Homo sapiens: one gene and its partners. The protein of the gene in region 3 interacts with the protein of the main gene of each other region in a pairwise test. Each region holds a gene or a part of one and is shown on either strand. Other genes may lie near its edges. The genes, in order: UPK1B, APOBEC3B, BNIP2, BNIP3L, FRK, BNIP5 and KCNK5.

Region 1 (4,152 bases), on a different chromosome or scaffold from region 3:
CCATTAAATGTTTATCTGTGGTGTCATTTTTAACCATTGCACAGAATTCTATTGTGTGAAATATGATAATTTATCTAACAAGGCCCTGAAGAGCTGCAGAGGAATAAGGCCTTGTGATGGACACAGAGGTGCTCCATGCAGTCCCCCTTGAAGTGGGAGGTTGCCCTGCTGCTGGGAGTACTTGCAACCTCCAGCCTCCAGTTATCAGCCCCTTTCAGGACTTGCCTCAGCTACAGAAAGCTGCCTTCCCAGGGTAATCCACATTGAAGGGCAGATCATAGAGGAGCCCAGTGTCAGAGCTACTCTGACAGGCCATCTTCCTCCAGAGTTTCCTGAGGAGGGCTGCTTAAGACTGTCCCATCTATATTGCAGCTCAACTTCTTCCTCTGCCCAGTCCTGTTTCTCCCCTCTCCCTGCCATGGGTGTTAATCTCAGGGCACTGTCTAATAAATATATTGCACACTAAATTTTGTCTCAAAGTCTGCTCCTGAACAACCTAACCTGCAACAGAGATGATGCTGACCTTTGAGGAACTCCCAAGTCTATTGGTAAAAGCACTCAGTAAATTCTAACATTACTGCAGTTACCGATTCCTAACTCAGGTTAAACAAGCGATGGCGCATGTATACCATGATAGGTTATGCAGCCATTAAAATAATGTTCTGGGTGCCATGTATAACACATGATGGCTCCAGAAGTCAGGGAAGAAGGAAAAAAGAAGGGAAGGGAAGAGAAGAGAAAGGGAGGGAAGAAGAGGGGAGGGAAGAATTGGACATCAGATAATCACTTGAGCCCTCTCTCTCCGTGAATTTTTCCCAATCTGTTTCTTTCCACATCTCTTGCTCCTTATCAGTCTTTGGGCCACCTACAGTATGAGCATTACTTGGGCAATTACTGTCTCTCTGAATTTGGCATATGCAAATTATAGAAACTAAAACTGGACATGGCCCTACACAGGTAAGCACATATCAGCATCGCTGTGAGCGGTCAGGACTAACAAGCCTTCAACACACAAAAGCAGGAGTAAGGATCAAATTACACAAATCAAATCAAATCAAATCAAAATAAAATCCCTGAGTTTGTATTCCAGTAAAGCCCAAACCTAGGAGGGATCCAGGAAAGCGATGAGTGTGGCTGTCAAGGTGCTTCCATCTGTCAGAGTCACACATTCCAAAGCAGCAGAAATCAACTGACAGCCTCCGGTTACTCCCCCGCCTCAGCGAGGCAGGGCAGGCAGCGGAAAGCTCAGCCCATGTGAGGTGCCTCCTGCCAATCACAGACTACCCTTCCCTGGTCCTGGAGGTTCAAAGAATTGCAGGAGGGTAGAAAAGCACCTGGGTCGGGTGCAGACTGCGGAGCGGGCCCTACCGTGTGCGCAGAAAGAGGAGGCGCTGTGAGTAGACCGCTTTCCCTCTGCAGGGAATCTCCCGGGCTCAAGGGCTGGGTTGCTCTCCTGGGAGGGAAGCTAGCAGACTGGGAGGGAAAGGGGAAGAAGTTAGATTCTTGATTCATAAAGTCTGTCATTTTTTTCTTTGTAATTTAGGGTATTGTGACTGTCCTGTTCTCTTTTACTTTGAACCGTTGGAATTGCTTTCTTAATACCCTTGATATAAGTCTTGTTCTCATTAAACTTCTGGAGATATTACGCAGCCATCCTGCTTTCAACCTCAGATATCCCCACAGAAAGAACAAGAAAATCCAAGCACCCCGAGAAACCCTATATCTCCTGATTAAATCGCACATAGACAGTCACCTTTGTAGACCCCCAATTTCCTTGTGGAGTCAGAAAAGCAATAGAAAGTTTAACGAAATAGCTCGTGTTATTTCTTAATAATCTGTTCAGGCTAGCAGAGAGAAAGTTTCTTGGTCTTCTTGTCAGAAATCATTTGGTCCTGCCAACCTGTAATGAAATGTGTGAAGCAATTTACTCCCAGTTATTCTCTGCAAACACTTCTGCTTAATAAATGTGTCAGTTGAAGTAAGTCAACAAAGTAGCTTTATCTACGCAATGTTATTTTTACATAATTTGTTTTTACTCCTTACCAATTCTTTGCTCCACCATGATCTGCAGGACATAAAGATATTTTTCATTCTGATCACATTTTCACACAAAATACAAATTTAAGTTTCAAATAATGCTAGTATTATTTTATGTTTGCATTTGTTTATAAACCTAAAACTCCACTTCTAACTAGTTTTAAAGATTTTTAAGCCATTTAAGAATTCGTAGCCAGTCACAGTGGCACATGCCTGCAGTTCCAGCTATTCGGGAAGCTGAGGCCACGTGATCAGGAGTTCTAGTCCAGGCTGGGCAACATAGTGAGATCCTGTCTCTAAAAAAAATAAAAATAAATTTTTAAAGAAGTTTTGTTAACTTGAATGTCTTCTTTTAATGAAAGACAACGTTTCTTGAACATTTCTTGCCTGAGTTGCTAAGCACAACAGGAAAGAACTCATTAGGTTTTATAGATATACATACTTTGAGTATAAACAAAATTTAGGTTACATAGTTTTCAGACCCTATGAAGAAGTGGATTTTCTTTTTATTAACCTTCTCAGTGAGGAGAAAAATTTCTTACTTTGCTTTCTGCTCCAACAGATTGTTTTGCTTTCTGCTATAAAATAGTCTTTAAAATCAACTCACCTATTTTTTTTTTTTTTAACTGCTGGGAAGAATCATAGACTTTTACATCCAAAGGGGACCTTAGACATCATTTAATCAAGGGGAAAAAAAAGAAACTCAGAACTTTTTTTTTCTTTTATTTTCTTTTTTTTTTTTTTTTTTTTTTTTTTTTTTTTTTTGAGACGGAGTCACTCTGAGGCCCAGGCTGGAGTGCAGTGGCGTGATCTCTGCTCACTGCAAGCTCTGCCTCCCGGGTAGATGCCATTCTCCTGCCTCAGCCTCCCGAGTAGCTGGGACTACAGGTGTCTGCCACCACGCCCGGCCAATTTTTTGTATTTTTAGTAGAGACGGGGTTTCACCGTGTTAGCCAAGATGGTCTCAATCTCCTGACCTCGTGATCCATCCACCTCAGCCTCCCAAAGTGCTGAGATTACAGGCTTGAGCCACCGCACCCGGCCAAAACTCAGAACTTCTTTTTGACTTCTCCTGCTTACAATCTTAACCAGAGTAAACACCAGCCAGCCTTTAAATATGCTCTGGAATTTGTGCCTGATAGCCATGCAGGCTGCCCACAAACTTGATGGGCCACCATTCACCAACTGGGACAGAGACCACATTGGTGAGGGGGCACCATCATCACACACCGCCCTACCCGCCTGCCCACCCCCTCCCCCCCGCCCCAAGGACTCTCCATAGTACTCCTGCCCTGGAGCTGGGCATCTCTCTGGCAATGCCCACACCTGAGGCCCTCGTGCAACTGAGTGCTCCTGAGCCATTGCTTACAGCTAGTCCCTGATTTCCAATGGGTGGATGACTCCCATCATACTGGGAGCACCAGGAATCAAGAGCAGTGCTGTCCAGTAAAACTTTCTGTGATGAGGGAAATGTTCTAGATAATAGACACTAACCACATGTATCTAGGGAGTGCTTGAGATGTGGTTGGAGCAACTGAGGAACTGATTTTTACTTTTATTTAATTGAATTCTTTTGACTTTAAATAACTGCATGCAACTACTAACTACTGTATTAGTCAACACAGGTTTAGAGCTTTAAAGCAAGAAAAACTTATGGGCACTGTGAGCCATGGGTGACAGCCCTGGGAGAAACCTCCTCTTTTTGTTATTTCCAGGGACTTATCCTACCTTAAGTTGAAGCAGACCAGCAATTGTTGTGACCTACAATCTCCACACCCATCTTTACTCTGAGCCAAGGAAGTGTCTGTTCTTGTGCTGAGTTTCAGGGTGAGGGCTAAGGCAATCGCATATTGTGTTTCTTTGTTTCTTCCTCTCCTATTTTTCCTTTTCTTTTTTTCTCCTTTGTTAATTCAAATTTCTCTAGCATGAACTAAAGTTTGAGGTGTGGTTTGTGTGTTCTCTGGTACAACAAACTTGGGTGAGGAAAAGAGGTAATGAACTTGAAAAAATGATCTCATGCTTACTGGGCGAGTCTCACTTCTTTTTCTTCTGCTTTGCAAATTGGTTTGTTTAGTGAGCAATTGTTTTTAGACCTTTCAATGTGTCTGGAAACAT
Region 2 (3,500 bases), on a different chromosome or scaffold from region 3:
GACGGGAGAGGAGGGAGGGATGCGGGAGGTGGGAAAGAGAAGGAGGCTGTGAGAAGGAAAGGGAGGGACGGAGCTGGGCGCCCTGTGGGGAGCAGGGAACCCAGAGGAGGCTCTGAGCAGAGGGGAAGGCAAGGCACAGGGGAGCGGGGAGGAGGGGGAGGCCGATGGGGCACCAGGCAGAGGGAGGAAGCCCTCACCTGGAGAATGGCCCGCAGCCTCCCACTCAGGGCTTGGCTGTGCTCCTCTAGTCCATCCCAGGGCTGGAAGGGACATCCCTGGCGGTACACAAAGGTGTCCCAGCAGTACTCAAACTCTGAAAAGGGACAGGGGAGATAAGTCACGCTCCTGTTGTGGGGAGGGGGCAGCACCAAGGGCCCATGACTCTCAGGACAGACTTCCCACATCCTGGTTTCAGTCCCTCCTTTCCCTCTCCCTCCCCTAGGGACTTAGCTCCTTCATCAGGTACTTCCTTCCCATTGGAATCTGGGCCAGCCCAGTTCTCTTTCTTTCGGAAATCCCCAAGTTCTGCTTCCACTTCCAGCCACCCTCCCCGGGCCCATATCTCCTGGCCTGGCCTCTCTCTTCCCATCGACCCCAAAGTCAGGTCCCAGAGTCCAGCCATCGTTTCTGCAGGCAGCAGACCAAGGCCTTTCTCCTTTTCTTCCCAGGAACCTCTCCTGCCCCCACCCACCCCACCCCACCTGAACCTTCCATTCTTACCATCGTAGGTCATGATGGAGACTTGGGCCCCAGCATCCCGCAGCATTTGCAGCGCCTCCTTATATAGGGGGTCGTAATCATAGATGCGGGCAGCGAAGATGCGCAGTCTCACGTGTGTGTTCTCCTGAAGGAACGCACGCACTTCCCCGGCACAGCCCCAGGAGAAGCAGGGGCTCCAGGAGATGAACCAAGTGACCCTGTAGATCTGGGCCGGGTCCAACTGCAAAGAAGGAACCAGGTCCAAGAAGCGCAGCTCCGCATGGCGGCCGTAAAAGCCACAGAGAAGATTCTTAGCCTAGAAAAGGAAACAGAGTGTGAGGTGATGTGTGGTGAACAGGGAGGGAGCGCCTGGACCAGGTGGGGCTGGGGAGGCGGGGGCCTCCAGCACGAAATTAGAGGGGTCGCCAAAACCCCGGTTATTAGGATGCATGATTTTCTATGCAATATTAAAAATATCAGATGTTATGCAAAAATCCCAAGATAAGCAAAATGTTGCCCATTTAAATACAAACAGATCAGGAGCAATGAGGTTTTATTTTGCCCCAGCTCCAATATACACAGGACAGCACTCTCCTGCCAGGCTTTATTAAAATCTTTGCTTTTATTCATCATGATCTATTTGTATTAAATTTGCGTTTTAAAATATTGCATTAATTATTAAATTAAAATGTGTTTTCTCTAATTACTGAGCATTTGGAGCCCCCATCAATTTTGTACCCAAGGTCAGAGCCTTCAGGACCCTCACCCCAGACCCAGCCCTGCAGGGAGGGGCTACAGAGATGGGGGCAGGGAGGAGGGGCCGGCGGAGCCCCAAGGTCATTGGCCTGATGCCCCTGAGTGAGTGTGCTTCCTTCAAGGGGAGATTGACCTGCTCTACTCATCAACTCCCCTACTCCCATCCCATCTGTGGCCCATAATTCTAGAAACTTCTATTCTGTGCCACAACCTGTGCTGAGCCCAAATGTGATATAGACTTAGGCCAAAATGAATTCCACCAAAAGTAGTGGGGAAGAGAAGACCAGCAGGACTCACTCCAATGTGGGAAGGTCCCTGTGACATGGTATAATTGTCATTATTTTGACTTATAGAAATATGGTATTTACTCCAAACTTCAGAGAAAAGGATTTTCCACTAAGACTAGGAATCGGTCAAGTTGGGGACAGCAGGGCAGCAAGGACTGTGATTGTGATGGGGACAAAGACAGGGAGGGATTCCATCAGAGGGGATGCAGGGTGAAGTGGATGACATGGTTTGTGCTGAGAAGGGGCTGTGGGTCATTCCTGGGGGAGTCCCACTGCTTAGGCGGTGATGGAGACTGGCACCCTTGAAAGGATGTTCCAAGCAGTGTGTGTGGATCCAGCGAGGCCCACATTGAGCTCATAGAGCCCAGAGAAGCCCCCAGTTTCCAGCAACAGAGCCAAGCAGAACTTGGCCTCTCCAGACAGAGGCTGTGCTGGGTAGGGGCCAGGGAAGAAAGTCCCTTGGGCTCAGGGCTCCTGGCCAGCCTAGCCTGGCCCCCTCAGCCTTTCCTGGCCCAGTTCTTCCCCAACTGCTGGCCATCTTTGCATCCTGACATGGGACCTGTTCTGGCCTTGCTGTGGGCTCCACCCTGGGCAGGACAAAACCCCTGATCAGCCTCTCCTGCCCCAGTCTGTCTCTCCGCAGGATGAAGCCCAAGAGAGGGCACAGGGACATCCTGGCCTTGTGAGTCAGGTAGGCCCTGAGTCCTCAAATCCCACAGTTCCGAATCATTCCTGGTGAGAGCTGTGTCTGTGAGGGGATCCTGGGAGGGTCCTCAGGAAGCACTTTGCCATTGGGCAGACTCAACCCCACCTGGCCATGGAGAGTCACTGAAGCCAAAGTCTCCCCCCAACTCCAGGGCCAAGCAGCAGCAGCTGCAGGAAGCACAAGTGACAAACACTGCAGGAAACCACAGGCACCACCCAGAACCTTCTATCTATGAGTGTCCCTGGATTGGGAGGGCCCTGCCTGGATGCAGGTGGCTGGGTCGGTCACCTCGTTGCATAGAAAGCCCATGTGCTGGTCCATCAGGACCCAGGTGCCATTGTCCAGGCGCTCCACCTCATAGCACAAGTAGGTCTGGCGCCGTCGAAGGACCAAAGGGTCATTATTAAAGTTGAAAGTGAATGTGTCTGGATCCATCAGGTATCTGTGGACAAAGACAGGGGAAACCAAAAGCCCTAAGACTCCTCCTGGGACTACCTCTCGCTCCTCTCCTGCACCCCCCACTCCTTCCCTGCTCCCCATATACTGAGGCACCTGTCAGAGGAGGCGCTTCCACTCCCTTTGTGGGGGCCACTGATCCTCTCTCTCTGACCCCTTCTGGTGGATTATCAGGAAGTCAACACAGCCCCGGGGCCTGTTTAGGCCTTGTCAGGGTCTCCCCAGGGTCAGCTCAGTGTGCTCAGGCCCTCCGGGGAGGACCCTGCCCCTCTCCCTGGGGTAGAGCTGGGTCTCCTTCCCTGGCCTCACCATGCACCCCTGTCCTGGCTCTGCTCACCCACAGCCCCTGCTGGAGATGGACCTGCTGGGGCTTCCTCCTGCCTGCAGGGTTAACTCCTACCACACCCAGCATTGGGGCAGGGACACTCCTGAGGGGGATCATTGGGGAGAGGAGCCTGCCAGGGACATCTTTTTGGATAATTCATAGCATTTTCCACGTCCCTTTGGATGCCATGAGGTCTCCCAAACGTGCTTCTCAGGCCAGATGGGGCAGCTCAGGACTCCTGGGCTGGAAACACCAGCCCCACCTTGAAGGC
Region 3 (3,500 bases):
AATATAATCCATAGTATGAAATATATTTTCAATCATAACCTGAGATACTATACATGCAACTGAAAACAAGTATTTTCACTGAACAGTATCCTTACTATAAACAGTATTTAACTTTCCCAGAATATATGTAGTCTGAGTATTCTCTTTTCTTTAAAAAAAAAAAAAAATTGCAACCCTGTAAATGAATTTCATGACCAGACCATTGTACTAAACATCAAGTATGAACTAATATATAAGATTATTACGCCTTTTCAGTGGATAAAAAGTAAAGTGGAAATTAAGTTATACATTTTTCTCTCTTCATAGGACATTGGCTCCCTGGATTATCAAGAGTTTGTAGTTGACATTGAATCCAGGCTGAGGATGGAAGGTGTGGAACTTAAAGAAGAATGGCAAGATGAAGATTTTCCGATGTGAGCAATGCTTTTAAAAGAAAACAATTTTAGAGCAAAAGTTCAAAATTTCTTTATCGAGATGTTACTTTTTTTTTTTTTGAGACGGAGTCTTGCTCTGTTGCCCAGGCTGGAGTGCAGTGGCGCGATCTCAGCTCACTGCAACCTCCGCCTCCTGGATTCAAGCAATTCTTCTGCCTCCACCTCCCAGGTAGCTGGGACTATAGGTGTGCGCCACCACGCCTGGCTAATTTTTGTATTTTTAATAGAGACGGTGTTTCACCATATTGGCCAGGCTGGTCTCAAACTCCTGACCTCGTGATCTGCCTGCCTTGGCCTCCCAAAGTGCTGGGATTACAGGTGTGAGCCACTGCACAGCTGAGATGTCACTGAGAAACTCAGTAATACAAGGCGATCATTTGATACTAGGAAGTAAAGTTTCTTCGGAACAGTTAGATTGATTCTCTTGTATCTTACTTTCCAACCAAGTATATATATAATCTTCTATAATCTTTCATTTTTGTTTTGGTCACTTAAGTTTGCAAATTTTTGCTTTTATAATAAAGTGTTTTAGTGTGGTTTGTTTGTTTTGTTTTGTTTTTGTTTTCATTTAAACAAGATCTGAGGGATTCCTCAGAGAAGGAGGTCTTTAGTTGTCTTTAAAATGTTTCTTTAATTTTGTGGCCAGGTGCGGTGGCTCACGCCTGTAACCCCAGCACTTTGGGAGGCCGAGATAGGCAGATCACTTGAGGCCAGGAGTTTGAGACCAACGTGGCCAACATGGTGAAACCCCGTCTCTACTAAAAATACAAAAAATTAGCCAGGCTTGGCGCTCGCCTGTAGTCCCAGCTGCTTAGGAGGCAGAGGCACAAGAATCACCTGAACCCAGGAGGCAGGGGTTGCCGTGAGCCAAGGTCGCGCTGCTGCACTCCAGCTTGGGCGACCGAGCAAGGCTCTATCTCAAAAAAAAAAAAAAAAATTTGTGGGTTCCCCCCCACCAAAAAAAAAAAAACCTTACTAAGTAAATTAATAAGGATTTTCTAGCTTATCTGGCCAGCCACCTTGACATGTTTGCATTTGTATTTACAATTATATTGGCACCAGGTAGGCTAATGAAAAAGAGAGCAAAGGCAGACCTTAAGTTTAAATAGTGCTTCCGTGCCGTACTTGTCAGAAGACATCCTAGTGCATAATCAGGTGCCTTAGCAGTTGGATAGCTTAGCAGTTGGACAGCTGATCGGAGACCTGAGTCACTGTTGCATATGGTGGTGATAGTAAATATAGGAATGCTGATCTCAGAAGAATTGAACCATTGTTACTGTAGTCTCGTGAGTAAAAATTGAGCTTCATACATTGCATCATACATCACATTATATTTGTGCATTTCAGTCATATTTGTTTAAAATTGTTACATGTTTTATAATTGTATAAGAGCTGTTGCATAAGGAATTTATATCTACTTTTATGTGTTACTTATATATAATAAGTGTATAAGTCAGCTCTGACAGTCAGAATTTTTACTTTGAAAGTGTAGCCAGGCATAGCACGTCACGCCTATAATCCTAGTGCTTTGGGAGGCCGAGGCAGAAGGATTGCTTGAGACCAGCCTGGGCAACATAGCAATATCCGGTCTCTACCAAAAAAACTTTTAAAATTAGCTGGGCATGTTGGTGTGCCACTGTAGTCCTAGCTACTCAGAAGGCTGAGACTTTATCTTAAACACTGCTAGGCTGGGCACAGTGGCTCATGCCTGTAATCCCAACACTTAGGGAGGTCAATGCACGAGAATCGTTTGAGCCCAAAAGTTCAAGGCCAGCCTGGGTAACATAGCAAGACCCTGTCTCTACTAAAAATTAGCCAAGCGTCGTGGCACGCACCTGTAGTCTTAGATACTCGGGAGGATCTCTTGAGCCCAGGAGTTAAGGCTGCAGTGAGCCATGATTGTGCCATTGTATTCCAGCCTAGGTGACAGACAGCAAGACCCTGTCTCAAAAACAACAACACTGCTTTATTCCATTTTCCAAATAATTATTTCTATAAGCTGTATGTTTAATAGATTGAACTTCAAAAAAAAATTCTTTCTTAATTTCTGGATTAAAAAGTATGCCTGTGTCTTCTAGACCTTTACCAGAAGATGATAGTATTGAAGCAGATATACTAGCTATAACTGGACCAGAGGACCAGCCTGGTAAGAGCTTGACACTTACTTTCATTGAAATTATGGACTTTGTGTTATTTTTTAAAACACGTTTCTTTGTCCAAAAAAAAAAAAAACTTGAGTTTTTATTCCATCATAGAAGTCAAAGTATAAGTTGAACATTGAGGAAAGCATTTTTAGAATGCTTTAAAAAAAATTCCAAAAACATACACTTGGTTTTTGGAAAGTTTTACAGTAAAGGGGTGGAGGAGATCATTTTTAGTGGTAAGAGGTATCTATAAGGTCTGCCTCTATTTAAAAGACATTGATACTTTATTGATCTCTTGCCAACGATGTAGAAGCAATAATGATCAGAATAAAAATTTTGTGAATAGGTGCTTTGAAATTATGTTCAATTAATATTATTTTTTCCCAAGAATGGGGTAGTTAAAATTTTTCTTATTCAACTTTAGCATCTAAGCATTCCTTGTTACGTATCTTTTTCTTTATTTTCCAATTCCAGGCTCACTAGAAGTTAATGGAAATAAAGTGAGAAAGAAACTAATGGCTCCAGACATTAGCCTGACACTGGATCCTAGTGATGGCTCTGTATTGTCAGATGATTTGGATGAAAGTGGGGAGATTGACTTAGATGGCTTAGACACACCGTCAGAGAATAGTAATGAGTTTGAGTGGGAAGGTAAATGTTTCACTGTTTTTAATCTGATCTTTATTAATGTACTAAGGGATTTTGTTTGAAATACATCATTCTTTCTAAAGTTCATATATTTGTTACTAAGATAGGAAATTGTGCTAACCCTTGAATATTCTCAAGGACTTAAAAAGTGTGTATAGAGTACACCAGTGGCTTTTTTCCCCTCTTATTTGCCCACTGCTCTCATGTTTTTTTCATAGCTGTTTCAAAAATATTTCTTGATAATTATGGCATGCTCTTTTTTAGTCAATCAAGT
Region 4 (3,500 bases), on a different chromosome or scaffold from region 3:
AAACAGGAGAAGAAATGTACAGATTATCTTGCGTTTGGGATTTTATCTTTGGTTCAGGGGTCAAAGCAGGGTTTCAATAGCAAATTACTGAAGTATTTGAATAGTGAAGTATTTTTGTGATTTTTTTTTAACTTTACCGCTGTGGAGAGACTGTTCACTTTCATTAAAAATTACAGGGCAAATACCCAAACTCCTTCCAAGTCAAAAGGATGTTGTCCAGTTTGTTTTATTGTTAAGAAAACTATCAACTTCCTTAAGAATGTTTGAATAAGATTCAATAGGGCCGAATAAGGAAAATCAAAGTAGTAGTGTAAATCGTAGTATAATTCTTGTTGTTGAGAAGTATAGCCTTTTTTTTCTTTTCAAATTTTCTTGTTCTTTTTTGTTTTTTGTTTTGTTGAGACAGGGTCTTGCTTTGTCACCCAAACTGGAGTGCAGTGGTACAGTCATAGCTCATGGCAGCTTAGACCTCCTGGGCTCAAGTGATCCTCCTGCCTCAGCCTCCCAAGTAGCTAGGACTGCAGGTGTGCACCCCCACATCCAGCTAATTATTTTATTTCTTGTAGAGTTCGAGTTTCACTTTGTCACCCAGGCTGGTCACCGGCTAACTTATTTTTTGTAGAGATGGAGTTTTGCTTTGTTGCCCAAGCTGGTCACAAACTCTTTTTTTTAAATAGAAACATCTTCAAGCACAATGTCCTTGCTTTCTTGTTATGAAGAGTGCTCTTAAGGCCTTCATGGATTGTCACTGCCTCATAATAATGTTTTGAATACCTACGTAACTTGTATGTAAATACATACTGCTGCAAAAAGACCAACTTTTCAAAAATTTATTTATTTATTTTTTTATTTAAGAAGAATGCCAGTAACTCTTGTTGGCCTGGTCTGGATTTCAGCATCAGGTTGGCCTGGTCTGGATTCCTTTCAATAATGAATGAAAAGCTTTGAGGAAAGAATGTAAATATAATGAAATTTCAAAAGAGTTACATGTGGGCCTTGAAAAGTTAGGGGGAAAGATGAGGAGAAATACTCTTCATTCTCTCCTCCCCTTGTCCCAAAGCTCCTCTCTTCTTCTTCTTGCAAGAGGATTGAACTAGTGATTATAAAACTGTAAAGATTATACAACATACGGCAATGAGTATAATCACAATTATTGGACCACCCTTCACAGTCTATTATGTTAGAGAACGGAGAAGCATTCACAGAAGTTTCTCTGAATCTCTTAGTCATTCCCAAAAACCCAAACCAGAAAATATCTCATGTCATTGTATGTTATGTACAAATTGGCATAAGGAACAGCTCTTAGTTTGTAAAGTCTTTTAGATAATGGAGAAAGCTTCCAGCTTTTAGTTTTCAAGCTTGATCATTAGGAGGAGAATTCACTCTGTGGTTGTTTTCTACTTTGTGTTGCTTGGACAGCACAAACCTCTTATCTAGCCTTGTTTCCTTTCCAAGTAAAAAGGGACTTTGTGAGGATTGGTAGAGTTAGAACACTAAGAAATTCTGAGGCTGTAAATCAGGAACAAATCGGGTGATGGGAAACAGACGTGTTGTTCATCTATTGAGGAAGACACATTTGCTTTTTTATGTGTTACTCAAAAGATTAATATGTAGCCTCTTAATGCCTGTGTACATAACTTTCTCTGTACCACTATGTATTTCCATAGATGATATTTTTGAAAGAGAATTACCCTTAATTAATTAAAGGAAATCTACACTTTTAAGGCTGTTAATACCTATTGTCAAATTATTCTCCAGAATGTTCACTGAAGCCCTAATTGTAATAACAAAGTATTAGAAACAACCATCTCAGTAGTAGTTAACCATTGCCATTTAGATAATGGTTAAAGTATGGTATATCTTTATAAAAGATGAGATGCAATGCAGTTGTTCAAAAGAATGAATGTCAGTATATATTGATAGGGAAGACATCTGAAAAACGACTTACAGAATATGTCAGTATGTGTGTATGGTACAGTTCCATTTCTTTATAAAAACAAAAGCAAAAACAGACCTATATTTCATTGACAAAAACTCTGCAAGTCTCCATGTGAAACTGTCAAAAGTGGCTCCTTTGGGAGTAGGAACGGGAGGTTGGGAGAGATGTTAATTTTTAATTTTATGTACTGATGTTTACGTTTTCTAGGAACACATTTTTCCAGTAAGGAATGGTTTTTCTATGATATAGAATATAATTGTAGTAGCTAAAACTTTCTTAGGGACCTTTCTTATTGTTCTGCGTGCTATATTCATTTAATCCTCCTAACAAAGTCTTCGAGGTAGATACAGTTATTATCTCTATTTTATAGATGAGAAAACTGAGGCACAAAGAGGTTAAGTACCCTGTGCGAGGGTAACAGCTATAACTGAGAGTGGGAGCCTGGCTTCAGTCTCAGCCCCTGACCACACTATACCAGTGTATCCCAAGTACAAATTGTCCGCCTTAAGTAGAAATGCTTTCAGTTATGATTCAGGGTGTGGAGGCCACAGCAGAGATCACTTTTACTAAGCTTTTCTAGGTATGTCTCTTTCAGGTTCCAAAAGTATATATTGGATTATGATTGCTTATGTGTTTTTAATGAAGAAAATAGGATCCAGACATTGATTTGAAAGTCCTTCAAAAAAGTAAAAACCAGGTTGGGAGCAGTGGCTCATACCTGTAAGCCCAGCACTTTGGGAGGCTGAGGTGGGAGGATTGCTGAAGCCCAGGAGTTTGAGACCAACCTGGGCAATGTAGGGAGACCCTGTCTCTACTAAATAAATAAATAAATAAATAAATAAATAAATAAGTCGGGCATGGTGGCATGTGCCCTGTAGTCCCAGCTTCTTGGGAGGCTGAGGTGGGAGGATTGCTTGGGCCCAGGAATCAAGGCCGCAGTGAGCTGTGATTGTGCCACTGTACTACAGCCTGGGTGACAATGCAAGACTGTCTCAAAAGAAAAACAAAAGTAAGGACCAGAAAACCTGATATTGTTTGTTACACCCTTTTTTCTCTTCGATTGCCTACTTCAAGTGAATATTAATTGTATTTTAGGGAAGACTGACTTCCACAGAGACCTATCTGGAACTCCTGGTTCCTTACCTCTGCTTCTGTCAGAGCAGCTCTGGGTTTTGGTTTGTTACTATTGTACACATTAGGCTTCTATACAAGAAGAACTGGTCCCATTGGTTTAAAAATAAGTTTGAAAATCCTAGAAACAGTGAGAGTCAGAAAAAAAAACTGTTTTTATATACATATTCTCTCCCCCACCCCCTTTCTCTCCAGTTGAAATATGTTGCAGAGCTCTAAATTTAGGGATGCTTTTGGCGTATTTCTTATACACTCCAGAGGCACTCGAGATAAATTATCTTCAATGTTAGATCTCTCTTAGCTTTGCTAGTTGTATTTGTTAATCCATTTTGAGTTCTCTAGCCTGTGTCCATTTTATGTGTGTATAGAATGAGGCCATGGAGATGTTGTACAACTGTGTCGTTTGGCAGCAGAGTCCTAAGGAATTGGT
Region 5 (4,025 bases), on a different chromosome or scaffold from region 3:
TAAAACTAACAGATTATGAATTCAAGGCATGAAACATTAATATATTATTATTATAATATACATGTTATGCCAAATATAAAATATGCATAATGCCATACAGGACATAGAAATCATAAAGTAGTGAAAACAGATAAATGCACATAAGTGTATCCAATATATAAAGATATTTCCTGTAGATTATCACAGAAAGCAAATGTTCACACAGGTGATTTTCCCACTTGATAACTGATCAATTCCATTCATTAAAAGTATATTTCAATTCATTTCTATTTAAGCATAAATTAAGACCCTTCTAAACATTTATAGGTTCTTGGTGTTGAAAAGAATCTCAAAACTCAAAACTCGTCAAACCTCCCTTCATATGTGATGTATGAGTTTGGAAAGCAGAAACAATGCTCTATGGCTATTTATTATTATCTTATTCCCTGGACCAGTAAGGGACGCTCACATAAAAATAAGAAACACTTACATGAGAACATAAGAGAATCTCCAATGGTTTCCCTATTAAGAAACCATTCTATAAAATGAGTCCATTTTGGCCGGGCGCGGTGGCTCACGCCTGTAATCCCAGCACTTTGGGAGGCCGAGGCGGGCGGATCACGAGGTCAGGAGATCGAGACCATCCCGGCTAACACGGTGAAACCCCGTCTCTACTAAAAATACAAAAAAATTAGCCGGGCGTGGTGGCAGGCGCCTGTAGTCCCAGCTACTTGGAAGGCTGAGGCAGGAGAATGGCGTGAACCCGGGAGGCGGAGCTTGCAGTGAGCCGAGATCGCGCCACTGCACTCCAGCCTGGGGGACAGAGCGAGACTCCGTCTCAAAAAAAAAAAAAAAAAAAAATGAGTACATTTTTTGAAAGACATTCCCAGTCTAAGGTTTCACTGGATTCAGGAAGCAATGAGATCAGGGCCAATGACAGTCTCCATTTGCTTCCCAACCCACCAGACCCCAAGTATCCATTGTCAAGACTATGTTTTATCCACTTTGTATTCAGTCACTACTAGAATAATCTCCTTTACCCTCCCCAACTCACCAGGCCCACTACTGTCTATGCCTGGCACTTGGAGGGGTGGTAGGTGGATGGATGGATGGATGGATGGATGGGTGAATAAGTACATAAAAACTTTCCTCTTTTGTTGCAATATAATTCATATTTCATTCAAATACCAGGATAAAGTCTTTATCTCCTCTTCAAGGAGATGTTGTCCTTTTTCCTATCAAAATTTACCAAATGTCTGTAGCTGGCCAGTTTCTAATCATAATAAAAACCAAAAGATATCATAATTTGGGTAGCATATCTCAGGATCTGGGAATTAAAAAAAAATCTATATCATGATGTCACTGAGAACATTAGTATCTTCTAAGTGTTGTCTTCTACATTAGCCCTGTATATTCCCATCAGAATGAAAGGGATTAGGATTAGAGCTAGGGCTAGAGTTGATATATTACCCTGGAATGTTTCAAAAGTTTTTTTTAAAAAAAAGAATCTGAAGTTTAGATTTGAGAATATCATTAAGGGAAGTCTTATAATTTACCTTCAAACAAAATGCAATTTTATTGCTAAAGTGAGGCATGAGTTATTTTACAGCCAAAGAGAAGGTACAGTATTAAACACATCATTTGTTTATTTTGAAAATACACCCTGGACCTGTGGATGTACATACTGTAATTGAAGTCATCTCAACAACAATTACTGGCCAGTTTCACACTCACTTAGCGGGGGAGGTGTGTTTCAATTAGTGGTTTCTTGCCAGTACTTCCTCATACTTTTTAGGCAACTCTTTGGACATTAGGGGGTTGTAGAGAAGTAGAAAGGAAAACTCATTACCCAGCCCTCAGAGAGTTCAGAAATTAAGTATAAGTTTGTACTACTCACGGCTCTGCCTGTAGGCTTCTGTCCTCAGCCACGTAGTTAGAAGGAATATAGCCTTGTAGTTGCTGACTGGAGCCATCTCGTCTTTTCTCCAAGTGTCTGGCAAACCACCAGCCCTCATGCAAAGTGTCCAGAACTTGAAGTTTGTCACCTGCTCGGAAGCTCAAGTCCTCAGCAGTCCGAGCCTGGTAATCAAACAAAGCCACAAAGTAGTGGCCATGCCTCTGTGACTGGGGAGAGCAAAGGGCCCCTGGATTTTCAATCACGGTTGACTTGTCTGCCTCCGTGGACAAACAGGGGAGATAGGGTTCTAGGTACTCCCAGAGCCTCTGACAGATGTTGCTCATTGTGCCTTGGTGGGGAGAAGAGGAGCAGGGCTTCTCCCTCTCCCCTTAGTCTCTGCGATCCACCTTATCTTCCTTCACCAGGCAACTTTGAAGTCAGCACCAACTCACCATACTTCGGAGAGTATGCAAAGTCCCGTTTCAGATCAGTCCAGCAGCTGGGTTGCAGCAAGTCCTACCTGGAGAGACTTACCGGCTTGCTTTCTGTGGCTGGAGGTGCTACCCCGAGGCAAAACTGAGCAGGAGCTGGGCAGCTGCTCACTAGGAAGGTGTCTTTTCTTCTTATCTGCTTAAGAATCCCACAACAAAAATAAAATAAAATTAAAAGGGCTTTATTTAGACAAATATCTGAGAACAGAATGGTGCCATCTTGCCTTTTGTCCCAATAAAAAGTTAGCAAGAGGAAGCTACTAACCCCTGGTAAAACCTCCACGTCTTGCTTTCGCCAGGAGCTCTCCCCCTGTTTCAAGTCTGTTCCTGTCTTTCGACCAGTCCGGATCTGGACGGCTCTCTCCTTTTTGCTAATGAATAACCAACCAGCAGAGGCTGTTGCCTTTAACATTCTGAGCTATGAACAGACTGTAATAATTTCCCCTTACTTCCTGGTTTCTTTCTGTCTGTGATCTAAATGGTATTCTGACCTCTTTACCCCTCCCATCTCCCACACCCAAGATAGACCAGATCCTTTACCAAACTGTTAAAGCAGCCGCTAAAATCTATATTCCTTTTGTTTCATCCTGGAGAAACAGGCTAGCCCAGGTAGCTTTTTGTCTTGTTATGTTCCCAGCACTGAAATTCACGGCAGAGATTTTTTTCCCTGACAAATAGGAGTAGAATTGTTTTGCCACCACTAGGGGAAATTTAAAAAGGCAAATTAAAGTATTTAGGTATTTCTTGTCAGACACAGAGCAATTGGAAAAGAACCATCAAGTCACTCCCTTTTCTCATTACCAAGAATAGATTTTAATAGCTTCAAAGAATAGTCACAGTCTGGAAAAGTAAGAAAGCAGCTGACTAAAATGCTGAGAACCCAAAATGTTGCTTTTTCCCACAGACATTTAATTTCCTATCCTTCAAGTACTATTTGGGAAACACACACACACACACACACACACACACACACACGCTACACACCAACTAGGTGACCAGTAGAGAAAAAAAGAGTAGAACAGAAAAAGAGCTCTTTGCACACTGCTGTGGGGGCTCTTTCTGCTAAACTTTGACCTCCAGATCTATGCTAGTTCTTACTAACTTGGCAAGAACTCAGGAACTAATGAGACTGACATCAGGACAGCCATCTCTAGACAGGCAGTGGTTTTTGCTTGACCTTCCCTAGTTCGGAGCAGCTGTCTCACAAATATGTGCCCTGGCAAAAACAGCCGGGCAATGAGTCTGGCAGATCAACGTACGGTCATTTATACTAGTAGACAGCATTGCAAACTTGTTTATGAAGTGTCACTGATCTCTCTATAAGACTTTTTTTTTATTTCTTTCTTAAAAACAATCTTTCTAAATGTTGTGAGACCCTTGAACCTGGCTAACCTATTCCTAGTACAAGCTCATAACTTCTGTTCTTTTTCAAATTGCAAGGCATTTAGTAATCAGAATAATCAAACTCAAGAAAAAGGAAGAAAGAAAGGAAGAAAGAAAGAAAGAAGAAAGAAAAGAAAGAAAAAGAAAGAAAAGAAAGAAAGAAGGAAAGAAAGAAAGAAAGAAAAGAAAAGAAAAGAAAAAGAAAATCAGAGAACCATGGCATCAGCCCAACCTGCTATTACTTTGTGCAAAAATCAGTCCATAGCAGTGGACAG
Region 6 (4,197 bases), on a different chromosome or scaffold from region 3:
CAGCAGTATCCTCCTACCACATTCCAAGGACACGCTGCTCCTCCTGATCAGAACATTAACACAATCCCACCAGCACATGCTTTCCCTGATGTTTTTTCAGGAAAGCTGCGGTGATTTGGCCGCTCCCTCCCTGGAATAACCGGTGCCCTGAGCCCCCGGGGAGATGAGAGGAACTAAGGCCAGGAGCCCCCGCAGCTGCTGCTGCTGAGCCCAGAGGCAGGCAGGAAGGGGGCCTCTGCTATCCAAGAGTTTCCCCAGTGAAGAGATTCCAGGGTCTCCCAAGGTTTCCTAATTCCAAATCCAGTGGCCTCTTCCCATGTCTTGTCCTCCCTTACGTGCTTCAGTATTTGATACCAGCCCTACTTCCTTCTTTTCTCTTTCCTCTCTGGGTGGCTGTGACTGTCCTCAGTCCAGCTCTCTCCTCCCTCTCCCCCGCTCCAACTGCTCCTCCTCTGTAATGTTCCAAAGATTGTCTTCAGCTCTAGGCCAGGGATTGAGACAGCGCGGCTGACTGGGGAAGACACACCCACACGCCCCCAGGAAGACCCCTGAAGAACCTCTGCGGATGGGGTGTCCTCAGTCTCTAAGCCCTGGGAAGCTTGTCTTTTAATCCTAATAACCTCCCCTTTCCTACATGTGCCAAAATTAAACCGTTCAAGACTTTCCAAATATAAAATTCTGCTATCCAGGATTTATCAAAGCAAGACTTTCCTTTCCTTTCTTCTTCTTTTTTTGTTTTGTGCCCCAGGTGCTCAACTACGTTCAGTCCGACCACCAGGGAATCCCACCCTGTGCAGACTGTGCTCCAGACCAGGAATCCTAAGTGAGCAGCGTGGTCTCACTATGCGGAAACCCAGCTGATCTTGTAAACTTGTTATTGCCTTGGCCGAAAGTGGATGTCAGAGCAAAGTCCAAATCAGCTCAGAAATACCCAAGTGATCTGCACATCACAAGACTGCTTCTGATAAGATGTGACATTTACCGGTGACATGTCCAGCAACAGCAACAAAGAACCAGAGAAGGCTCACAAAGCTGACCCTGGAACGGGAAGTTTGCTTGCCTTCCCCAAGCTTGCTGCTGTGTGTTGTTTACTTTCTAAGTTGCACGGTGACCTCATCTCTATGCTGTTCTCTAATTTGTTCACCTGGCCGCGTTACTCTCTAACTGCTCTGGTGCCTTTCATGGAGATAACTTCGCGGCTCCCCTTCTCCACCCCATGATTCACACAATAGAAACTTCACAGAGAGCCAACCTGCTGCACACCCACAGCAGCACCCTGAGGGACAGAGTGTGTGGCACACACACGTGGACCCACAGTCAACACCACAGACATCCACGTGTCACCAGAACACACTTGTGCACACCACAGACCAACATGGACTCAAGACGCCCTGTATTTCTCCTGTCCCAAGTGTAAGGGAATAATTATGTGACCAAGCTCACCGCTTGCCATCGGTCCTAACTCTAAATTCCATGAGAGGGGACCTGAGCCTGGGAGGCTCTCAGTGTTTGTGAAACAAACAAATGATACACAGGCATGTGCAAACCCAAACCAGCTCACCTTCATGCAGCCACACGGCGTCCAGAGAGCCGTTTCATTGACATGATCTCATTTCATCTTTGCCAGGAGCAGTGAATCAGATGGGCTAACAGTGGGGCACTGAGGCTCCGGACCATTAAGAGACACGCCCAAGGTCACATAGCCGGGAAGCAGAGAGCTGAGACTCTCCCACTTCTCCCGATTCAAATCCTACATTCTCTATTCTACACCAAATGGCCTCATGTAAGCATAGATACACATGCACGCACTTACACATGGACTTAGGGGAGAAACCTGCTATTTCACACTGATGGAGGTAATCACAGTCACATACACACCTACCATGACCTATGCACATGGAGTCACACAATCACGTGTGCCTAGGTATAGACACCCATGCCCTCCCCACCCCATTCTGTCCTCTATCCAAGACCACGGGCAATGCAACACTGTGTGAGGAGTCGGTCAGGACTGTGGGTTATAATCCACCTCCCAGCCTCTACATTCCCATCCAAGAGAGCAGTAGACCATGAGTTATTTTAATAAGATTTCCCCATTCTTGGACTAACTTCCAAAAACCTTAAAACTCATAGAACCTTAATTTAACCATAGGTCATAATAACACCTCTCATTTATCAGGGGGTTCCCTCATGTACCTTCACATAAAGTCTATAACTTGACCTCTACCACATCCTGAGGGAAACTAGCAGGTGAGCTATGTAATGCTGCCCCATCCTACAGACAAGAAAACTGAGGCCCAAGGAAGTGAAGTTCCTTGCTCAGGGTGGCGGCTAATAAGCAGGATTGGGACTTGAATACAGAGTTTTAAGTCCGAGTGAGCCCAGAGCCCTTTGAGAAACACCCCGTTGAGATAATGTCATTGAACCTTGCTCCCTCTTTTTAGAGATAAGAAAACTGATCCCCCACCTCCACCCCCATTGCCTCTCTGGGAGGGCCCAGCATGCTGGAAGCAGCATTGGGACTGGACTCTTGGTTTGACACCCAGGACTAAACTCTTCTCCGGACCCCAAGATACATACCCACTGCTCCCGCCCCCAAAGGAGAGGGTATTGTTCAACCAACCTTGGACCACAGAAATCGCTTCTGTCCTGAACACCCTGGGCTGGGATCTTCAGACAAGAGGTCTCTGTGTTAGGCTCTGCTCCCTGTCAGCTGGAAGTTGTGTCCAGTGAGAAGTCAGACCCAGCTCTCCCAGGGAGAAGATGCCACTACTTTGGTGCTGGCAATTTTCTGAGTGTCTCAGAAGATGCTTTGGCCGTCCATATATACAGTATCTCCCAGGAACTGAGCTCATGGCAGCCAATCCAGAGAGCCATGGGCTGGCTCACCTTCCTCCACCTGTTACCACCCATCCCAGGACTGCTCCCCGCTCCTCCAATGATAAGAGGCTTAGCTCAGCTACCCTGGAAAAAACAGTTTCACTTGTCAACTTCCTTATTGCACCCAAACCCCAGTAAGAAACCAAAGCTCAGAAAATAACCTAAGGTCTGGCTGGGGAAAACCCCACCTGTAGAGTTGAAAACAAGACTTAATGGGAAATGCAGGTTAGGGGGAGAAAGTCGAGGTGGCTTTATTGCCTTTACAACATCCCTCAGTTATCTTTGAAGATTAGTGGGGAGGGAGGTACCTAGAAAGAAAGGTCAGCGATGGGATACATACATCCCTTGACCTGGAGACAACCCAGAAGGAAGAGCCCACAAGAGCCACGTGTTCCAGATCTGCTATGCCCGGGAAGGGTTGCCATGGATCTTGAGAGAACATTCTAAGAAGTCTTAAAAAGTCAGATTTCCACTTTCTGTAATGCCTTATTTTAAAAAATAGAGTGTAAATACATGTTTATAATCAGAAAAGAAAAACATGTTTTATTAAAATGAAAGCAAAGGCCGGGCACGGTGGCTCACACCTGTAATCCCAGCAATTTGGGAGGCTGAGGCAGGCGGATCACCTGAGGTCAGGAGTTCGAGACCAGCCTGGCCAACATGGCGAAACTCCATCTCTACTAAAAATACAAAAATTAGCCAGGTATGGTGGCAGACACTTGTAATCCCAGCTACTTGGAAGGCTGAGGCAGGAAAATCACTTGAACCCAGGAGGCAGAAGTTGTAGTGAGCTGAGATCGTGCCACTGCACTCCAGCCTGGGTGACAGAGTGAGACTCTGTCTCAAAAAAAAAAAAAAAAAAAAAAAGAAAAAAAAAGAAAAAAATATTAAGAAATTCTGTTTTGGTTCATTAACACAGGGAGGCATCACAAAATATATATGGAAGCACCAAACTTTGGAGTCAGCCCCATCTGGAGACACCTGCCAGCTGTGTAACCACAGCAGGGGACATGATGTCACTGAGCTTGTGCTCACTTATAAAACAAGTAGTCATCTCAGAGGGTAGTTGGGCCAAATGCGATAATGCTTACAAAGAAAAGAAGAAGGCCAGGCATGGTGGCTCACATCTGTAATCCCAGCACTGTGGGAGACCAAGGTAGGAGGATTGCTTGAGCCCAGAAGTTCAAGACCAGCCTGGACAACATAGTGAGATCTTATCTCTACTAAAAATTTTAAAAATTAGCCAGGCATGGTGGCACATGCCTGTAGTCTCAGCTACTCAGGAGGCTGAGGCAGGAGGATTGCTTGAGCCCAGGA
Region 7 (3,500 bases), on a different chromosome or scaffold from region 3:
TTACCCTGAAAGTTGTGTGTGCTCTTTCAAATGTGTGAGAAAGGGAGTTAAGTCAACTTTCTTTAGAAATACCCCCCGAATTGTCAGATACTTCCTTCCCTCCGCTGTGGTTGAAGTGAGGTGCAGGCTGACTTTCAAGTGCTCAGTGACCCGCCAGCCTGGGACCACGTGATCGTCCTCTTTCCTGTCTTCAGAACCATCTTGAACCCTTGCTCTCAAGCAAGATCTTTGGTGACTCATTCTCCCAACCTCTTCCTAAATTGCAGACTCACACAAGGGAAGTTAACATTTACAGCACACCTACTCTGTGTTGGGCATTGTGGGTGCTATTATCCTCATTTTATGAGAGAGGGCACAGGCTGGTTTTGCCATCTGGCTCGGCCATTTACCCATCAAGCCATGTAACTTAACTTTGCCTTCCTTTCCTCATCTGCAAAATGAGTGTTTGGTGAGGCTCCAATAGAGTAGAAACATTAGGCAAGATGTCTATAAAAAGTGAACAGGTCTCCTGACCTTAGCATTTATTGAGGAAGGCAGCTTTACCTACCTGCCTTATTTCAGGTACTCTTTACAGTATGTATTCAAGTAAGCAAGCTGAAGCCCAGAGAAGATAGAATGGCCACAGGGACACCACAGGAGGCACAGCCTATGGGGCGGGACGGGGAGGGGCAATGACCAGGCAGTCTGCCCCAGGAGCTTGCACCTCCCTCTTGGGCCTGTGAAGATTGTTGCTCTGTAACTGAGCTTAGGAAATTGGTTCAGCTGGACCCTGATCTGCTGGAAAATTCTATTTTCTATTTCCCCTAGCACAGGTAATGGCATACAGGCGTCTCCTGTGTTGTTGCCTGGCTGACCCAGCACCTCTGTTACTGAAGTAATACATCAGTCCACCCCTCTGCGCTTCTCATTTTGGAAGTCCCCAACCCCTGTCCCACCAAAAACAGTGGGGGTGTGATTGAAGGGGAGGAAGGACAGCCCTTCTCAACCTTCTGCCTCTGGTGGGCAGTGATCAGAAACAGGAAGGATTTGAGAGCCCACCGTGCACCAGACCACTTTGAATAAGCACTTTATATACATTCTTATTTTAATTTAATCTTGCAGGCCACCTCATAAATGAGGAAAATTAGGGGAAAAGCCAGTGTAACTTGTCTGGGATCACATAGAGCGGAGTCAGTTTTCACATCTAAGTTTCATGTTTCAAAGTACATGGAAATTAGCAAGCATTTATTAAGTATCCACCATGTGCCAGACACTGGGCAAGACTCTCAGGATACAAAGAATTAGGCTACACTCCGAGCTGCTGGAGAAAAGGATACATAAACCCACTGGGAACAAGACAGTGGGTGTGGGCTACAGAAGAGGTTTTCAGGAGGTCGCTTAACGAGGGTCTGGTCCAGCCTGAGGGGTCAGGGAGGGCTCTCAGGAGATGACCTCAAGCCAGAGTGGGGTCTTGGATTAGAAAGAACAGCTGGGAACCTGGGAGGTCAAAGCTGCAGTTAGCCTGGATTGCGCCACTGCACTCCAGCCTGGGCAACAGAGCAAGAGCTTGTCTCAAAAAAAGAAAAAAAAGATTAAAGAAAAAAAAAAACCTAACTGGTAAAGGAAGGGAGAAGAGACTCCTAACAGAAGATGGAGAGTGGCCCTTTCTCCTAGCCTGGGGAAGGCAGACTGCAGGTTTCTTGCTGTGGCTCTAGAGAGTCCCTTGTCTCCTGAGGGTGGAGCAGGGTTGCCCTAGGTCCTGCCCTCTGTCTAGCATCCCAGACCAAAGTCCAGGTTTTGCTTGACTGCTCATATAGCTGACCTGTTCCCGGAAGCCTCTTGGATCCCACTGGCCTCCTTCCTTCCTAAGCTCCAAAGTGCTTTCTTGTGTTCTAAGGTTTTCCATATGTACCTCCTTTCATTTTCTGGACCCTTTGGACTGGTCTATACACACTCCAGTCCAAAGTAGTAAGGCTAGTTCCAATTTTGAGGTTCTGGCACTCTTTTAACACCAATCCTGCTCCCCAGATTTGAAAAATAAAACCATGAAATATATGACAAAATTACATGTGGCCAAAATGCTTAGAATGGGGTACATTGAATTTTTTGGAAAGTTGAGGGTTAATATAAACACCCTCTTTGTCTCAGGCCTTGTTGGAAATTGTGAAATGCACTGGTCCACTTAACCGCCTTTGTAAGTAAAAGGAACACAATAGCTCTTTTGGTTATGGAGGATCTTGGAGGCCTCCACAGCCTTGGGTCCGAGCTTGAGTTCTTACTGGCTAGGACTGCAGAAGTGGAAAGTGGATAAGCTGGTTTTTTGAGAGGAAATTGAAGAGGTCCCTTCCTAATGGCTTGTTTCTTATTTATGTTCCACTCAAAAGTTGAGGGTAGCCAAAAAAAAAAAAAAGCCTTAGTCTGCCTTAGTTAACTGCTCTGGTTAGAGTTTTTTAACAGTGAAAGTAAATGTTTATTACATTGCTTTGAGCGTTTGACTAGAACCCTTAGGATGATTACAGATGGCACAGTAATAGAGAATTATTGAGGGTAGAAATTAGCAAGTGTTGAAAGTTTCCAGTGGGGGTGGGGGATGCAAAGGAGGTGATGATTGTTGCTTTTAAATATTTTCCTGGGGTTTTGCCCTATTTATAGTCTGGCGTTTAGAAGAAACAAAATCCCCCGGTTTTGGATGCTGTGCTTGGCTGGCCCTGACCTCGGGCCAAAGGCTTTCATCTTGAACTTGGCTGTTTGCTGGCAGATTGGGCTCAGCCTCTGAACTGTGTGTGTGGTTGGTGGTGGTGGGAGGAGGGAGAGAAGTGCAAGGTTTTGGGGAGCAGAGGAGCCAGGCCCCTGAGTGGAGCCTCCAAGACAGTCTTTGTCCAAATTGGGATGCTGTATTTGCATGGTGCTGCAAGAACCAGTTGGCCAGAACTGGGGTGGTACAGAGAAGTGAGGTAGGAGACCATAGGAAAGCACATGAAATAGGTTTGCCTCCTTCCAATATTCCTTGTAGGGAGTGGAGAAGATGGAAGCGAATCTCTTTGAGATTTCATTGAGTCCCCAGGGACCTCTGGAATAACGCAGAGGAACCCTTGCCTGTTCAGTTCTTCCCAAGTATGGCTGTACATAGAGAGAGGATGTGCTGCCCTCAGTAGGGATCTTTGTCCAGCTGCCACTGCGGGGCCTTGGTGGTGTTGCTGAAGGAATCACCAACCAAGCAGTATGTCTGATGGTTGTGGGAGTGGCCTCTGAAGCCACACCATAGTTTGCTTAGAATAGTGTATGGCACATCGTAAATGCTCACTAAGTGTTAGCTGCCATTTCTGCTATGCCCAGATATTCCTATGCTGCAATGGAGCGGTCCCTGCACAGGTGTGGTGGGAATCTAATTGGTATTACAAAGAATCAGGAAGGTCTTCCTAGAACAGAGAGAACGTCAACTGAATTTTTTAAACGCAAAAAACACAGAAACATATAATTTACCATTTTAGCCACGTTTAAAAGCCCAGCTCAGTAGTGTT

Evidence for each region.
Region 1: the proteins of BNIP2 (region 3) and UPK1B interact in a two-hybrid assay, tested with the Homo sapiens proteins (one large-scale study listed by BioGRID).
Region 2: the proteins of BNIP2 (region 3) and APOBEC3B interact in binary tests that used the Homo sapiens proteins (3 or more experiments, as listed by UniProt).
Region 4: the proteins of BNIP2 (region 3) and BNIP3L interact in a two-hybrid assay, tested with the Homo sapiens proteins (one study listed by IntAct).
Region 5: the proteins of BNIP2 (region 3) and FRK interact in binary tests that used the Homo sapiens proteins (3 or more experiments, as listed by UniProt).
Region 6: the proteins of BNIP2 (region 3) and BNIP5 interact in binary tests that used the Homo sapiens proteins (3 or more experiments, as listed by UniProt).
Region 7: the proteins of BNIP2 (region 3) and KCNK5 interact in binary tests that used the Homo sapiens proteins (3 or more experiments, as listed by UniProt).

What each region holds. Positions count from the first base shown.
Region 1 is NC_000003.12:119,172,246-119,176,397, forward strand, and holds the start of UPK1B (uroplakin-1b), read left to right. Parts: upstream 1-1,352; 5' UTR 1,353-1,393; intron 1,394-4,152. UniProt on the Homo sapiens protein: Component of the asymmetric unit membrane (AUM); a highly specialized biomembrane elaborated by terminally differentiated urothelial cells.
Region 2 is NC_000022.11:38,988,847-38,992,346, reverse strand, and holds part of APOBEC3B (DNA dC->dU-editing enzyme APOBEC-3B), read right to left. Parts: intron 2,891-3,500; coding exon 2,737-2,890; intron 1,016-2,736; coding exon 721-1,015; intron 314-720; coding exon 198-313; intron 1-197.
Region 3 is NC_000015.10:59,679,321-59,682,820, reverse strand, and holds part of BNIP2 (BCL2/adenovirus E1B 19 kDa protein-interacting protein 2), read left to right. Parts: intron 1-306; 5' UTR 307-363; coding exon 364-413; intron 414-2,512; coding exon 2,513-2,580; intron 2,581-3,052; coding exon 3,053-3,229; intron 3,230-3,500.
Region 4 is NC_000008.11:26,386,054-26,389,553, forward strand, and holds part of BNIP3L (BCL2/adenovirus E1B 19 kDa protein-interacting protein 3-like), read left to right. Parts: intron 1-3,500.
Region 5 is NC_000006.12:116,058,092-116,062,116, forward strand, and holds the start of FRK (tyrosine-protein kinase FRK), read right to left. Parts: upstream 2,801-4,025; 5' UTR 2,221-2,800; coding exon 1,877-2,220; intron 1-1,876. UniProt on the Homo sapiens protein: Non-receptor tyrosine-protein kinase that negatively regulates cell proliferation.
Region 6 is NC_000006.12:36,334,089-36,338,285, forward strand, and holds the start of BNIP5 (protein BNIP5), read right to left. Parts: upstream 2,801-4,197; 5' UTR 2,624-2,800; intron 2,588-2,623; exon of another isoform or gene 1,562-2,587; intron 1-1,561.
Region 7 is NC_000006.12:39,222,976-39,226,475, reverse strand, and holds part of KCNK5 (potassium channel subfamily K member 5), read left to right. Parts: intron 1-3,500. UniProt on the Homo sapiens protein: K(+) channel that conducts voltage-dependent outward rectifying currents upon membrane depolarization. Voltage sensing is coupled to K(+) electrochemical gradient in an 'ion flux gating' mode where outward but not inward ion flow opens the gate.